Linked DNA regions of Homo sapiens: region 1 is linked to region 2. Evidence: fine-mapped expression QTL. A gene starts in region 2. The other region holds a variant in brackets. All regions are shown on one strand. Distances are from middle to middle. Region 1 overlaps CEP85 (centrosomal protein 85). Region 2 holds the start of SH3BGRL3 (SH3 domain binding glutamate rich protein like 3).

Region 1 (8,328 bases), 40 kb before region 2:
TTTCACAAGGTTTAATGAATGATCAAGGCGGTGAAAATAGTGTAATGGTGTGAGATCCTTCGTGTGTCTGTGTCAGCTGTCTGTGTATCCCTTCAAATCCTCTCTTGTCTTGATGTGGTTCTCTTAACAGCTGCCAAGCATGATGTTCCACACTTAGATTGTAATTCTTTTTTTTTTTTTTTTTTTTGTGAGACGGAGTTTTGCTCTTGTTGCCCAGGCTGGAGTGCCGTGGCGCGATGTCGGCTCACCGCAACCTCCGCCTCCCAGGTTCAAGCGATTCTCCTGCCTCAGCCTCCCGAGTAGCTGGGATTACAGGCATGCGCCACCATGCACGGATAATTTTGTATTTTTAGTAGAGACGGCGTTTCTCCATGTTGGTCAGGCTGGTCTCAAACTCCCGACCTCAGGTGATCCGCCCGCCTCGGCCTCCCAAAATGCTGGGATTACAGGCGTGAGCCACCACGCCCGGCCACACTTAGATTGTAATTCTTATAGGGGAAAAATACTTACGGCAGTCAAAATCTAATTCTTGGGTAGCAACTTGAGAAATAAAGCCTAGGTGATGACCAAGGACAAAGTGAAGAAATTTTATGAGCTTTTACTGCTCATATAATTGAGGCTTGCAGCTCTAGCTGTCTGAGGCAGAAACTCCAACTTGTGGTGCCATGCTTGATCTCTTTTTTTGTGTTTTGTCACATGTAGAATGCTGACTAGACTACTGTAGCGTTAGAGTACAGTCCTGGCTTTGAAGCCTCTTCCTAGCCATATGACCTTCACTACTGTAAACCTTTATTTTCTCATCCATAAAATGAGGATAATAGTAACTGCCTCATAGGGTTGATGTGAACATGAAACATGAGACATGATACTTAAAAAGTGTTGAGCACAGTGTTTGATAGGTAGTAAGTGCAGAATGCATGTTAAATTTGTTGAATGAGTGACTGTTTCTGTAGTTTAAAGGGCTTTGAAGATGGAAACCAATCCTGTTGGGTGCTTTTTTTTTTTTTCCCCTCTGTCTGCCTCCATTCACTCCCTTTCTAAGCTTTATAACTGGTGTGTTACTTCTTGTACATTCACTTCTCTCATTTTTATCCCAGGAAATTTCTGTCTCCTTCAGTTGTCCCAAAAATTTCCACCAGTAGCTCATCTAATTCTTAAGTCAAGAATGATTTATTTTGTATTGTTTTACTCCTTACGGGGTTTCTTTCTTTCTGTTTTTCTTTTTTGAGATATTTGTTGTCAATGAGGGTCAGACTCTGAAATATTTGAAGGGATTTATTCTGAGCCAAATATGGGTGACCAGTGGCCCCTGACACAGCCCTCAGGTGATCCTGATAACGTGTGCCCTGGTTTTAAACATTTTAGGTAGACATGAGACATCAGTCAAATACATGTAAGATTTACATTGATCTGGAAGGGTAAGACAACTCTTAGTGGGTGGGGGCTTCCAGGTCATAGGTAGATTTCAAAATTTTCTGATTGGCAGTTGGTTGAAAGTTGTTATCAATAGAAAGGAATGTCTGGGTTAAGGTATCCTGGGGATCAACATTTTATTGTACAGATGAAGCCTCCAAATAGTAGGCTTTAGAGAGAATAGATTATAAATGTTTCTTACAGACATCTGTGTTAATGTTAATGCTTTTCCTAAATTCCAGAAGGGAGGAGGGTATAATGAGGGGTGTAGGACTCCACCACCACTACCACCATCATGGCCTTAACAGGTTTTTCAGCTTAACTTTGGAATGCCATTGGCCAAGGGGAGGGATCCATTCAGGTGGTTGGGGATGTCTTAGAATTTTTTTTTTGGCTTATATCACATAACATAAAATTTAATTTTATGTGTGTGCAATTCAGAGGTTTTTAATATATTGGCAAGGTTGTGCAGTCAGTCACCACTATCTAATCTCAGAACATTTTGATCACCCTGAAAAGAAACCCGGTATCCATTAGCAGTCCCTTCCTATTCTCCTACCCTCCCTCCTCTCAGTCCTTTGCAATCACTAATCTGTGTCTCTATGGATTTGCCTATTCTGACATTTCATATAAATAGGATCAAGCCTTTTGTTTGGCTTCTTTGACTTTGCATGTCTTCAGTGTTCATCCATGTTGTCACATGTATCAGTACTTCCTTTTATTGCTGAATAATACTCTGTTTTTTGGATATACCACATTTTATGTATCCATTCATTAGCTCATGGACGTTTGTGTTGTTTCCACTTTTTGGCTATTGTAAATAATGCTGCTACGAACATTCTTATTGAAGCTTTTGTGTAAACCTGTGTTTTCATTTCTCTTGGGTGTATACTTCAGTGTGGAATTGCTGAGTCATAGGGTAACTCGGAGTTCTCCTTCTGTCACCGTATTTTCAACTTGTCTGAATTTAGAAACACCTTAGAATCCAGTGCGCCTACCATTTTGTTATCCTTTAAAGAAAGGAGTGAAGAAAAGGATTTTGATATTGACAAGAAAGGAAATCACTAGTAAGGAGGTAATCTAATCATTCTATGTCATCATTTAACTCACTGAATCATACTTGCCATAAACTAAAGCTTTTATTACTGAACAAAGCTTCCCTCACCCAGTATGTGAAGAACTGGAATTGTGGAGGATGATACCCTTTCTATTGTAGATGCAGTGAATTAATAAGGGTTTGGGTTGTTATGTACTTTAGTGACCTCTATAGTATTCTCTTAGTAACAAGAGAATACTATAGAGGTCACTAAAGTACATTAGAGAAATAGTACCATATAGTCTTTTTTCTCCAGAGTGATAGAATTATGTTCTGTGAATTGTCCCAAACTCTTTTTTTTTTTTTTTTGAGACGGAGTCTTGCTCTGTCGCCCAGGCTGGAGTGCAATGGCGCGATCTTGGCTCACTGCAGCCTCCGCCTCCATGGTCCAAGCGATTCTCCTGCCTCAGCCTCCCAAGTAGCTGGGATTACAGGCGCCTGCCACCATGCCTGGCTAATTTTTGTATTTTTAGTAGAGACGGGGTTTCACCATGTTGGCTGGTCTCGAACTCCTGACCTCAGGTGATCCGCCTGCCTCGGCCTCCCAAAGTGCTGGGATTACAGGCGTGAGCCACTGAGCCCGGCCGAATTGTCCCAAACTCTTTTGGGGCTTTTATAAATTTAGAGTTTCTGAGTTGATACTCCTTGATCTTCCATGGGCTGTACAGTGCTACTTTTGTTGATGTAAATTGCCAAGTAATAACAGCACTTAGTATGTGTCAGGAACTGTTGTAAGTTAATTATAAGTGAATTAACATGAATTAGGTTGTGTTGTTATCCTCATTTTTATATGAAGAAAATGAGGAACAGAGATACTAAGAAATTTGCCCAAGGTTACACAGCTAATAAATTGATAACTTAATGTTTAGTGGGTTCAAGTGTATTTGTTTAGACTTCAAATCCACTTCTGCTGAATTCTCAGCACCTACCCCTAGTGTACTGTAAATATAAATATTTTAAGGAGTGAGAACATGGGACGAGAACTTCACGTTCCTAGCTCAGGATTGGAGTTCTACTTATGAGCAAGAATTCTTTCCCATCTTTTTACATCGTATGACTGACTTTAATTACTGGAAGAATTGAGGAATTTGTTTTGTGTTAATCATAATTGATGCTGTAATACTTCACTGTTGGTTTAGTTCTTTAGTTCTTTATCCACCTCGTCCTGTCATCAGGTCCCCATGGCTAAGAAGATTCATGGTAAAGTTTGTTAATTAAAAGTAATATTTTTAAATTTTATAAAAATCAGAAGGGTTCTAGGACCGTATGGAATCTGTATTGGTAATCTCTGGTTCTAGGTTTTCTATACTGGATTTGGGAAGAGAAGTAGAGTGGAGTATTGGGATTTACTTTGTCTTAAAAATATCCTTAGAAGTAAAACATGTAAAAACATATTTACTCCTAAATATCCTTAGGAATATAACATTTAGAATACTGGAATATTCTTTTTTATTTTTTTTGAGATGGAGTCTTGCTCAGTTGCCCAGGCTGGAGTGCAGTGGTGTGATCTTGGCTCACTGAAACCTCTGCCTCCCGGGTTCAAGCAATCCTTGTGCCTCAGCCTCCCAAGTAGCTGGGACTACAGATGTGTGCCACCATGCCCGGCCAATTTTTGTGTTTTTAGTAGAAATGGGGTTTCCCCATGTTGGTCAGGCTGGTCTCGAACTCCTGACCTCAGTTGATCTGCCCGCCTTGGCCTCCCAAAGTGCTGGGATTACAGGTGTGAGCCACTGTGCCTGGCCAAATACTTGAATATTCTATATGGTTTTGACAGTTTCAGTTGAAT[G/A]GGAACTGAGTTGCGGGGAATTAAAGATACTTCAGAGAACTGACTGGTTATTCCTTCATTCTACAGTTGGCTTAAATAACTGTGATTGATGGCCATGCAGGAGAAATATCCAACTGAGGGGATCTCTCACGTCACTTCACCGAGTGAGTAGTCAGAAGTTTTCTGGGTTAAATTCTGACCTTTGTTCTGTTTTTTCATATTCCTTAAGGTAAATATTGAACAAACAAGCATTCACTGAAATGCTGGTGCTAAAAGAATAAAAATAACATGGGGCTTCATTGAATATAAAAACAGGTCTCTGAGGGAACAAGTATTTATCTCTTGTGCTATGTGGCTTTCAACAGGACCACGTGGTTGGGAGAGGACGACATATAAAGGATTGGAACAGAATGACTTTGGAACATAGTTCCATTTGAAATCAGAAAAACACAGCATAAATTACTGTGTTCTATGTTGTCTTTGTCCTCTGGGTGGGTCAGTCATCTGCTAGCCCACAAAAATAGGAATTCTGCTTGGATGCCAACAGATTCCGTTGCATTGTTACTAGAAACTCAGGAATTTATCTTCAGAATGGATTAACAAGATTTTGAAACTTCAGTAGATATATTAAATATATACAGTCCTTAAGTGTCCATGGCGGACTGGTTCCAAGACCTCCTGCAGATAGCAAAATCCACAGATACTCAAGTCCCTGATATAAAATGGTGTGGTATTTGCATATAACCTGTGTATATCCTAATGTTTACCTTAAATCGTCTCTAGATTACTTGTAATACCCAATGCAATGTAAATGCTATGTAAATAGTTATACTGTATTGTTTGGGGAATAAGAAGAAAAACAAGTCTTATGCACATTCAGTAAGATACCATTAAAAAAAAAAATTGGTTGAATTCACAAACGTAGAAACCACGGATATGGCCAGGCGCTGTGGCTCATGCCTGTAATCCCAGCACTTTGGGAGCCCAAGGCGGGTGGATCACCTGAGGTCAGGAGTTTGAGACCAGCCTGGCCAACATGGTAAAACTCCATGTCTACTAAAAATACAAAAATTAGCCGGGTGCAGTGGCATGTGCCTATAATAATCCCAGCTACTTGGGAGGCTGAGGCAGGAGAATCACTTGAACACGGGAAGCAGAGGTTGAGGTGAGCTGAGATGACGCCACTGCACTCCAGCCTGGGCAACAGAGTGAGACTGTGTCTCAAAAAAAAAAAGGGGAAAAAAAAGAAACCATGGATATGGAGAGCTGACTGTATATTAAACACATAAATATATGTATGCACTGTGCAGGCATATTAAGTAGATAATATATATTTCAAATAAGTAATATTTTAGAAAAATGACTTGTTGAATTCTGGGGTATTGGTAAAGAAGAGGGCACGTTTAATTCAACTCAGGGTATGTTTTATTTAACTTTAAAATCTCACAGTGCCTTACTCAGCGTAGATATTTGGTAAATGTTTGGTGTATTCTCTTAGGCATGCTGCCTTGCATAGAGTAGGCACCATTATAAGCTTTGGTTGAATCAATTCAAGATTCATTCAGCAGAATTTTTTTTTTTTTTTTGAAATGGAGTCTCGCTCTGTCACCCAGGCTAGAGTGCAGTGGCGTGATCTCGGCTCACTACAAGCTCCGCTTCCCGGGTTCATGCCATTCTCCTGCCTCAGCCTCCCAAGTAGCTGGGACTACAGGTGCCCGCCACCATGCCCAGCTAATTTTTTTGCATTTTTTAATAGAGACGGGGTTTCACCATGTTAGCCAGGATGGTCTCAATCTCCTGACCTTGTGATCTGCCCGCCTGGGCCTCGCAAAGTGCTGGGATTACAGGCGTGAGCCACTGCACCCGGCCTCAGGAAATATTTTTTAAACATCTGCTATGTGCTGCACATTCTCTTAGGTTTGTACAGTTTCTATGACAATTATGTATATAATGCAAGTTTTTGGAACAATGCCTTTCCTATGGCTTTTTTCTCTCTTCAATAGTATCTCATTCAGATTAATAATGGTCTTAATAATTGATAAGGATGCTACTGATAGGACATGCACTATAACACAAAAAATTTCAGCTTTTCTTTTTTTTTTTTGGAGACGGAGTCTTGTTCTGTGGCCCAGGCTGGAGTGCAGTGGCACAATCTCAGCTCACTGCAACTTCTGTCTCCTGGGTTTAAGTGATTCTTGTGCCTCAGCCTCCCAAGTAGCTGGGATTACAGGCATGCACCACCACACCTGGCTAATTTTTTTGTATTTTTAGTAGAGACGGGTTTCGCCATATGCCCAGGCTGGTCTCCAACTCCTGAGCTCAGGTAATCTGCCCACCCCCGCCTCCCAAAGTGCTAGGATTACAGGCATGAGCCACTGCACCCGGCCAACTTCAGCATTTAAACTTCAATTTTGAAATAAGTGTAAACCTCTATAAATATACCAAAATATATTTTTAACAAATAACTCTTTGGAATTAGGGTATGGAGTAGGTGGATGGAAAAATGGTAGCGATGAAGAGTGGAAGATTAGTAGTAGTAACAGGGAAGCGGTTTCCAGTAGGAAGTCAGGAAGATGGTAATAGAGGCCCTCAATCTTAACTGTTTCAAAAGGCCTGGCAAATTTTACACTGACTAGAGAGAAAAAGCTGTGTAGACTCACCAGAAGGTGGGATTTCTTTGCTTTGGGCTAGAATTACACCAACTTAGTATAGTAGCATTGGCTAATCTCATGCCGCTCAGAAACTCGGATTGTTGCCTGTGTCTTCTATAACAATTACAGATTACTGAGTGTATAAAGATTCTTTCAAATCAGGCAGTCACTGTGATCCAAAGAATAGAAGAAGTATTTGGGGAAAGTCAGGTTGCCTTCAGTAGAAAGCCAAAGTAAGGGTAGCAAAAAATGAGCAAAAGTAGAAGAAAATAGATTAAAAAGATGAGAGAAGCACTAAACTTGGAAGAAAGGAATAAAGTAATTTGTGTCCAAATTACTTTGGGCGTAATCATTTAGTGGGAGCAATCATTTGCCTCCCACTAGATCAGCGAGTCTGTAGAACCGTATTTTCTGAAATCGGCTTTCACACTTTAAGTTAAATGGAGGATAAGTAGCTGCCATTAGTTTTTTTGTTTGTTTGTTTATTTGTTTACATGGATCACCAGATACACCTTAGGAAAATTATAGTGGTTTTTAGAAAATAAATTTAAGTCTTTGCTAGAATGTTAGTGAATCAAGTATTTATTGAACACTTCCTACCTACCTCCCCCCAAACAGCATATTTTAAATCAAATAAATCTCATCAGTCTTTTTGTCTTAACCTTCTCAGCAGTTTTAGTGATATCTTCACGTTGCTCTCAAGATAAAGCCCTAGGCTCTTCAGATTGACTTTCAAAACTCACCTTGATCTCAATAGGATTCACCTATTGAGGGTACCCTGGTTCAGTGAAGCAGTGATTTTCTTTTTTTTTTTTTTTTTTTCTGAGATGGGGTTTCGCTCTTGTTGCCTAGGCTGGAGTGCAGTGGCGCAATCTTTGCTCACTGCAACCTCGAAGCAATGATTTTCAACTGGGGACTGGACTGCTTGTTGCCCTAGGAATCATTTGGAACTATATGGTTATTTTCTGGTTTCACAGTGATGGTGGTCTTGGTTGAGGGTTGCTGCTGGCATTCAGTGAGTGGGAACCAGGGATGCTAAACCATTCTGTAATGTATAGACTACACATTGAAGAATGGTCATCCCCAGAATGCCAAAAGCACCATTGAGAAACTGTAAGAAAGAGGAAAGAATGTGGGTTTTGGAATCAGAAAGAACTGGATTCAAATATCAGCCCTCCCCTCTGTAAAATAGGGGTGGTAATACTTTTCAGTAAGTAGGTAGGCAAGATTATGTTTGTAAGGTCCTGTGGCTTTACAGGTTTCAATAAATGGCCACTGCTATTAAATATGATTGTTTTCTGTTCCAGTACTCCTGGATTCTTCATGGGTCTTATTAACATCTTTGAATATTCTCACTTCTCATACTATTTCCACTTAAAATTAACTAGCTCAGGCTTGGCGCA
Region 2 (8,328 bases):
TGTTTGAAAGGGAAAGGTCCCTACTGAGCTCTGGGGGCAGAGGAAAGGTGCATTGCATCATTCTTTATATTACAGACCCTAAGCCTGTTTTAGCATGTCCATAATTATTACCTAGGAAGGTTTTTTTTTTTTTTTTAAGACAGAGTCTTGCTCTGTCGCCAGGCTAGAGTGCAGTGGCGCAATCTCGGCTCACTGCAACCTCCGCCTCCCAGGTTCAAGCGATTCCCCTGCCTCAGCCTCCTGTGTAGCTGGGACTACAGGCACGCGCCACCACGCCCGGCTAATTTTTTGTATTTTAGTTGAGGTGGGGTTTCACCATGTTGGCCAGAATGGTCTTCATCTCCTGACCTTGTGATCCGCCCACTTTGGCCTCCCAAAGTGCTGGGATTACAGTCGTGAGCCACTGCGCTGGGCCCAGGAATGCTTTTTGATGGGGAAAGTCATTCTCTCTTCCTTTGTCTTGAAGCCACAGGTTTCTGGGGTTGGGGAGTGGAGAGTTCAAGAAGACTGAGGATTTGGTGGCCTTCATGCACTAAACAGAGCTGTCAGCAGGGGGCAACCAAGTTCACTGACTGGCCTAGTGCCTAGGAAGGAACCTCCTTGAGTTAGGATTGTCACATGGCCCAGTGTGGGTGGAGGGCCTGGGACTGAAGGACGGACTCTATTCAGACTCTATAAAAATACAATCAAGGTAGGAAGGGAAGGAAAGTGGATTAAGCTGTCAGGAAGAGAGGGAAACAGACAGACATACATGAATAGATGGTTTTTGTAATAAAGTCTGACTCCACTGAGGTGAGAGTTTGAAAAGGCAGGACTTGTTCCAGGGCTGGATCCTCCAGGTTCCAGCTTCTCCAGCCCCCCACCTAGTGGCTACTAGCTGTCATATTGTCTTTCTTACTCTCTTTATTCCTCTGACACACTGTGATCAGGCTGGCTGGTGGCCACTTTTGTCAGGGTGGCAGGGAGAGATTGAAACCAGTGTCTCCTCAGATTTCACGGTTCACATTAAGCCTTCTCTAATAGCCTGGCTAACAGAGTTGGCTGAGGGACTGGCTTGAGATAGAGTTCCTAGGGGCGGGAGCATCTTCTCTGGTTCTTGAACAGAAACTTGGATGCTGATGATTCAGAACCAGTTGAGGGTTGGCTTCCTCTCCAGTGCTAGAGCCCTGTGGGCCCAACCTACCCACAGGAAGAACCAGGCCTGATACTGATAGTGGGAGAAGTGCTAAAAGCCTGTTGGCAGGGGTAGGGTTGGGGAAGGAGGGACACTGCCTATGACTCACCCATCCCTTCCACACCCACACACTCATGCACAGATACTCTTCCTCTCCCTGGGCCTGAGTTAATGTGCTTACCCATCTGTCTGCTCAGCTTTCAGTGCAAAACCAGGACTTGATTGAGAAGAATCTGACACTCCAGGAACACCTGCGCCAGGCCCAACCAGGGTCTCCACCTTCACCAGACACGGCCCAGCTGGCACTTGAGCTGCACCAGGAGTTGGCCAGTTGCCTTCAAGATCTGCAGGCTGTCTGTAGCATTGTGACCCAGAGGGCCCAGGGCCATGACCCCAATCTCTCCCTGCTCCTGGGCATTCACTGTGAGTCCTCAGACCAGTCTGGGGCCCAGGAAGGAGGGTCCTTCTTTCTCTTCTCTCCCCCATCCTGCTTTCCCATATTCTTGTGGTAATATGTAGACAGAGTACATAGTCCTGGCCACTGCCCTCTGGACATTTATTTGTTTCACAAAGTAGGTGTTCACAAATCTGTTTTTGGAAACAAGCTATGGGGTACTTGCATGCAGGACAAACTAAAAGTGGACCTTCAGCAGCAAATTAACCCACTGTCCCCAGATGCTTTTTTTAAAGTGCATGTCCCAAGACTGTGGGTTCAAGATACTGCCTATCCATACTGCACCCTCCACATGAAAATGTCTCATAACTAACATTCTCTTGAAATGCTCTTCTCCCCAGCAGCACAGCACCCAGAGACTCAGCTAGATTTGCAGAAGCCAGATGTGATCAAGAGGAAACTAGAAGAGGTTCAACAGCTGCGTCGTGACATTGAGGACTTAAGGACCACCATGTCAGACAGATATGCCCAGGACATGGGAGAAAACTGTGTCACACAGTGAGGAATTCTGGGGGATTCCCCCAGGGAGGAGCTGGGCTGCTGAGAGCCTAGTCCAGCAGGTTTCTGCCCTGACATTCTCTTGTCTGCTATTCCCAGAGAGGTCTCAGAGGGGAGGGGAGAGCCTGCATCTGGGGGCCAAGGGCTGATTAGGGAACTGTGTCCTACCCACACTGGCATGTTGGATTACGTTTGTCCTGTTAATTCACTCTAGACGGTGAGTTACTAATTAACTTTTGGCAGGTACAACAGATAAGTCCTCACAAACTGTTCCCAGCCCTAGGCTGACATGAGAGACGAACAGGCTGTCCACCTTTCTTCTCCATCCAATGGGATGGATCCATGTTCATTCCCACTTCACACCTTGGTCCTGCTGATTAGAGAGCTCATCAGAGGGGCCTGGAAAGGCTGAGCAAGTACCAGTGACAATGGCCATTTAAGAATTCTCAGGCCCCATGTGCCAGCCTTCTTGGGAACTGAGCTGGCTTTCTGGGTTTTCTCATGCCTGGTCTTACTGCTTCTTCCTCAGGGCTCTTGTTCTCCCAGAAGCCTCAGGGTAATGTGTTGGTTAGCACGTAACTACTAGGATTGGGGCCCTAGGGATTATAGCCAGGACTCTAATCTGCCTACCATGCCATTTAACAAGAGATCCCACTCTCCAGCTGCCTTGTGTCCCTAGGGTCCTGGCCATGTGTTTAGTGTGCTAAACTTTCTCCTTTGTTCTCAGGCCTTCCAGGTAGTCCCCTTCCTGGACTTAAGAGTGCAAACTCTTCTCTGTGGTTCTAGCCTTGGGCAGAATTATATCCCAGAGACCACAGAGCAACTGTCAAGCTGCTTACCCCCTCACCCAGGGCTACAGCCTGTGCCCAGCCCTCTAATTTGTGCCTCTCTTGTGTTGGGGGTGGTGGGGGTTATTCCTTTCCCTTTCCTGCTCTGGCCTCCTTGAAAGTTCAGAGTACCCAGTACAAGTCAGCTTTAAAGTACAGCTTTTAGTGTTTCCTGGGTTGTTTCTCTGGGGCTTTAGTGAGGGACCTTTGCCCTCTGGTTTTTCTTGCCTCCTGGTTTAGGGAGCATCTCACACTTGTTAGTATCTGGTTGTTGGGCCAGCCGTGCCTCCTCTAGATCTGGAGCCAGGCCAGGCAGGGGCCACGTGTGGGCCAGTCAGCCACTACAAGATTTTTGCTAAGCTTTGGGCTGTTGGCAGCATCTTGGACCTCATGCCTGGGCCTGAATGAGGCTCTTTCTTAAGTGTTTTTACAAGTTTGTGTTTTATTTATGGAGTGACTTATCCCTTCCATTCAGAGCAGCCCCACCCAGCCAGCCCTTCAGCCTCTGGGCTCCTGCTGCTTAAAGGCAGAGCCGCCTGGTTGGTCTCCACCCTGTGCATTGGGAGCCCAGCCACCATGCTGACGGGTATTTTTCCTCATAAAGTTTATAACCAGTTATTTATATGAATCTTTGTTATGTCCATTTGTTTGTATTGCGTATTTTGATTATAAAATAAAGTATCTTAACAGACTCCTCAGTTTTCCATACCCTTCCATCACCACCACCACGCTATTCTACCCCTCACTTTGGCTTGTTAGAGCCAAACACCTGGGTGTTCAGCCAGGTCCCCCAGGCAGCAGCGTGGAGGAACCTTTGGCAGGTCCAGCCAGCCTCATGTCCCTATCTATCTCTGCCACCTCTGCTCCTCTGTCGTTCTATAGAACCAGATCTCTTCCCACTCACTTTCTCTTGGGCAAACCTTCCCTGAGTCATAACAGAAGTTTGTCACTGGAAAGTTTCAGCAGTCCTCTCAGGAAGTTGGCAGCCTCTGGGTTGCTGTGAGGAAGTGGCTTTACCAGAGCAAGGGTTGTCTTTCTGGGCTGTTAACCTGCCTGAGCCCTGGACCAGGGGGACATCTGAGAAGCATGATGTTGAGTGCCAGACAGCTAGGTCTCCAAAGTTGGGCTCGTTGCTGGAGTCTGCCCCCTCAACCGCTGAATTCTTGCTGGGAGTAGTAGCAGTTTGGGAATGCCATCTGCAGCATGGAGCTGGGGTTGAGCTTGGACCACCCCAAGACCTGGGGTGGATCTTAAGGGTCAGCTTGAGCCTAGGCTCTCGAGTCCTGACATCATCCTCTACCGCCACGCTTTCCAGCTGTCAGCCTTGGTCTCCATCTGGTTCCTTGAGGGTGTGGCCTCTGCGTCCTGCTATCACCCTTCCTTGTCTAAACCTTCCCACCTGAGTGGAGAGGAACTTGGGGGAAAATCTCTAAGCATGGGCTCTTCCTGCTGTCCTATGCTTCCTATCCCCTAGGGTTAGTGGTGCGTGTTGGGTGGTGGAGCGAGGGATCCCTTGGAGCAAGGTTCTTAGAGAACTTTGGGTCTGAAAGCAGCTCAAACCTTCCAAAGCCCCAAGCTTCCCTGTGCTATTAGAGCACCTCCTCCTGGAGAGAGCGGCTCTCGTGGCTGGGGAGTTGGATGCACCAAACCTGTGTGCGGCTGGAGAGGGAGGCTTCTGCCAGACCCTCTCCCGGGCCTGTCCTGCCACCCAGGCCCCTCCCCAGTCTCACACTGAGCTCCAGATCAGGGAAGGGCCGAAAAGGACGATCAGGGCAGCCGCAGAAGGGGCGCCCTGCGTGGGACGGGTCCGTTGCGCGCCTGGTAACCGAGGGGGAAGGGAAGGGGCCTCTGGCGTGCGGGGCGGTGTCGCGCAGGTCCCACCCCGCCTGCCCGCGCCGCCCATTGGTCCCGAGCGCGATGACTTGGCGGGCGGAGCAGGAAGGAAACCGCTCCCGAGCACGGCGGCGGCGTCGTCTCCCGGCAGTGCAGCTGCCGCTACCGCCGCCCTCTGCCCGCCGGCCCGTCTGTCTACCCCCAGCATGAGCGGCCTGCGCGTCTACAGCACGTCGGTCACCGGCTCCCGCGAAGTAAGTGCGCGCCCGGACTGGCGCTGGGGGAAAGCGCAGGGCTGTATCCCGGTGCTTTGGACCCTAGCGCCCGGGACCCACCCCCAGGACGGGGGCGGGGTGGGGGGAGTGCGTCGGCGAGGTGCTGGGCACGGTCTCCCGGACCCGGTCCCGAGGCCCCATCCTGAATGTCTTCATCGGGCATCCTGGGTCCTTTGCAGCCGCGGCATGAACTTCCCGTGCCCATCCCCCATCAACCCCACACCCATTCTCTGCACTCCCACTACCGGGCTGACCCTGACCACGACCGCAGCCTGCCCTCCCCTCCCCTCCCCACCCTGAGCCTGATCCCACTTCCCTTCACTCTGACCCCCTCCCCCGTGGCTGATAATCCCTCTCTTCATCCTGCACCACCTCAAGCCTGACTCATCCTCCCAACTCCTAGAGGCCAGAACCCTCCCCTAGTGTGGAGGGGAATGGGGGGACAAAAGCTCCTGGTCACAGCCTCTCTCACCCTGCCCAGCATTTCCCCCATAAATCCTCCAGCCTATCCACTAACCCCTACCCACCCTCTGTCCCCAGATCAAGTCCCAGCAGAGCGAGGTGACCCGAATCCTGGATGGGAAGCGCATCCAATACCAGCTAGTGGACATCTCCCAGGACAACGCCCTGAGGGATGAGATGCGAGCCTTGGCAGGCAACCCCAAGGCCACCCCACCCCAGATTGTCAACGGGGACCAGTACTGTGGGGTATGGGCTGGGGGACGGGGGGGTGGGGGGAGTGTTGGAAGAGGACTCTAGCCAGGGTCATATCTGCCACAAAGCACTTGGGCCCCCTGCATTCAGGTGACCACCCCTCGCCTCCCCTTCTCCAGGACTATGAGCTCTTCGTGGAGGCTGTGGAACAAAACACGCTGCAGGAGTTCCTGAAGCTGGCTTGAGTCAAGCCTGTCCAGAGTTCCCCTGCTGGACTCCATCACCACACTCCCCCCAGCCTTCACCTGGCCATGAAGGACCTTTTGACCAACTCCCTGTCATTCCTAACCTAACCTTAGAGTCCCTCCCCCAATGCAGGCCACTTCTCCTCCCTCCTCTCTAAATGTAGTCCCCTCTCCTCCATCTAAAGGCAACATTCCTTACCCATTAGTCTCAGAAATTGTCTTAAGCAACAGCCCCAAATGCTGGCTGCCCCCAGCCAAGCATTGGGGCCGCCATCCTGCCTGGCACTGGCTGATGGGCACCTCTGTTGGTTCCATCAGCCAGAGCTCTGCCAAAGGCCCCGCAGTCCCTCTCCCAGGAGGACCCTAGAGGCAATTAAATGATGTCCTGTTCCATTGGCACTGTGTCTGGTTGGTTGTGGCCTGGGCCTCCTGGGTCCCTGCCCTGGGCAAGGTTGGTAGTTGTGACTGTGCTGAGACTGCTCTGTGGGAAGGGTGGCTGAGCTGTTCTCTTGTGACTGTCACCTCTGTGTTTGTTAGTGCATGTGTTTGGATATGTCTGACACACAAATACCTGTATGGACCAGTGGTTTCTGGAGATGTCTGGGTGGGCCACCCTCCAGTTCACATGCATGTGTCCATATCATGCTTGTGCCTTGGTGTGTAGTGCACATCTCCATGCCTGTCAGTGAGTGTGGCCATCCCATGCGCCTGTGTTGGAGCACAATGGCTAAGAATGAGTGTATCATGGGAGGTGGGTACCCAGCTGCAGTTCTGCTAATTTGGGGGCATGGGTCTAGTGGCAAAATGGCTTTGTGCGGTGTTGAAGTGTCCCCACGAGTTGGTGGGTCTGTGCCTGTGCACAGGTATCTGCTGGCTGCACACATACACAGTGAGGCTCTGCTGTCCCAGCTGAGAATGTAAACCCAGCTGGGGCCAGCTCCTTCCCCCCACTGCATCCCTCCCTTCACAGGATCCACTTAGCCCTTCTTGGGAGAAAGAGGAACCTAGAAGACAAAGACCCAGCAGCCAGGCCCGCCAGCCGGGGCTCGAGTTACCAAGGGGCGGGTCGGCACCGCCCCCTCCCTGGCCCAGCTGGTCCCAGGCCTTTCCTACGTGCCTGGCGAGATGGCCCACCCAAGAGCCTGGCGGAGCAGCGGGTTGAGGGGGCGGGTGCTTTATTGGGGGCTGGGACTGGGTCCAGGACAGGGACTGGGGCCGGGACCGGGACCGGGACTGGGGCCGGGACCGGGACCGGGACTGGGGCCGGGACCGGGACCGGGACAGGGACCAGGACTGAATTTCAGGCTGGACTTCGGGGCTCGGCGTGCCCGCAGCAGCAGTGCTGCTTTGGGCACAAGGCCTGCAGCCTGCAGCGTGAGTGTATCGTCCTGGTAGAGGGTGGGCGGGAATGTGCTGAAGATCTCAAAGGCAGAGGCATCCATGACCCTGGGGACCAGGCAGAGCAGATCAGGCTGGGCAGTGGGACCAGAGCCCCTCTGTGGCCCTGGCCCTGCCCTGCACCCACCTGGCCTGCGCTAGCAGAGCTCGCACGTCCCCAATGGTGTTGTCAGGCTGCATCATCAGTAGGAAGGCCTGTTCCCCATTCTCAGACTTGATGCGCAGCATGGAGAGCGGGGGTGCCGGCGTGTTGGGTGACTCCTGGCTCCTGCACAGCCCAGAGGCCATCAGCACGCGGTGACCCAACGCCCCCAGGCCCTCACCTCCTCATCCCGCCCTCACCTCTCTCGCTCAGCGGCCAAGGTGGGCGTCTCCACCACAATCTCCTGGATCCGGGCAGGCAATGGGCAGCAGTTCTGGAAGGTATCAGTGGAGGGTGGACAGAGCCCTAGGCCCCATTTGAGTCATCCCCACAAACCTTAGAGGGACACTTCCTTGACCAGGGACAGATGAGACCAGTGAGCAAAGCGGGAGGGGGTGTTCTGTATAAACCAAGGCCAGAGGAGAGGCAATGGAAGGGGAAGAAGGTTCTGGGAGGCAGCCCCATGGTTCCCCCCAGGTAACCCCCCGTTTCAGTCTAATGGAGACAGAACCCCACACAGACGATGATCAGGCTGGAAGCCCACCCCAGCCTGGGGTCAGGGAAGGCTTCCCTCGGAAAATGACAACTGAGCTGTGACTGAAGGATGAATGGGAGTCCTTAGAAATGGAATGGATGCAGGGATATTCCAGACAGCATCAACAAAGATCCTGGGTTCAGGGAAAGCTTCCTAGAGGTGGCGACACATTTGGGCAACTGCCAGCATTATGTGTGGCTGAAGCTGGGGCTCAATTGGACTGGAAGGAAAAGGTTGGTGTGAGGAGGGGCCTGGCAATATAGGACGGGCCTTGAGTGCCAGCATAAGGAACC

Evidence for each region.
Region 1: its variant is fine-mapped to the expression of SH3BGRL3 in whole blood (TOPMed, PIP above 0.99).

Annotation. Positions count from the first base shown.
Region 1 is chr1:26,235,401-26,243,728 of GRCh38, forward strand. It overlaps CEP85 (centrosomal protein 85), which reads left to right. Exons shown (of 14, transcript NM_001319944.2): 2 at 4,362-4,438. The coding sequence starts at 4,384. Among named protein-coding and RNA genes, the nearest start is that of CEP85, 5.4 kb to the left of the region's middle. The variant G/A (reference allele first, on the strand shown) is at 4,296.
Region 2 is chr1:26,275,164-26,283,491 of GRCh38, forward strand. SH3BGRL3 (SH3 domain binding glutamate rich protein like 3) reads left to right here and starts at 4,923. Exons shown (of 3, transcript NM_031286.4): 1 at 4,923-5,040; 2 at 5,602-5,769; 3 at 5,895-6,359. The coding sequence starts at 4,993. The coding sequence ends at 5,960. It overlaps CEP85 (centrosomal protein 85), which reads left to right. Exons shown (of 14, transcript NM_001319944.2): 13 at 1,372-1,597; 14 at 1,973-3,645. The coding sequence ends at 2,130. UBXN11 (UBX domain protein 11) reads right to left here. Exons shown (of 15, transcript NM_001389556.1): 13 at 7,701-7,774; 14 at 7,486-7,626; 15 at 7,119-7,406. The coding sequence ends at 7,136. RefSeq lists enhancers at 694-1,893, 4,444-5,331, 5,332-6,218 and silencers at 4,707-5,278, 4,755-5,204.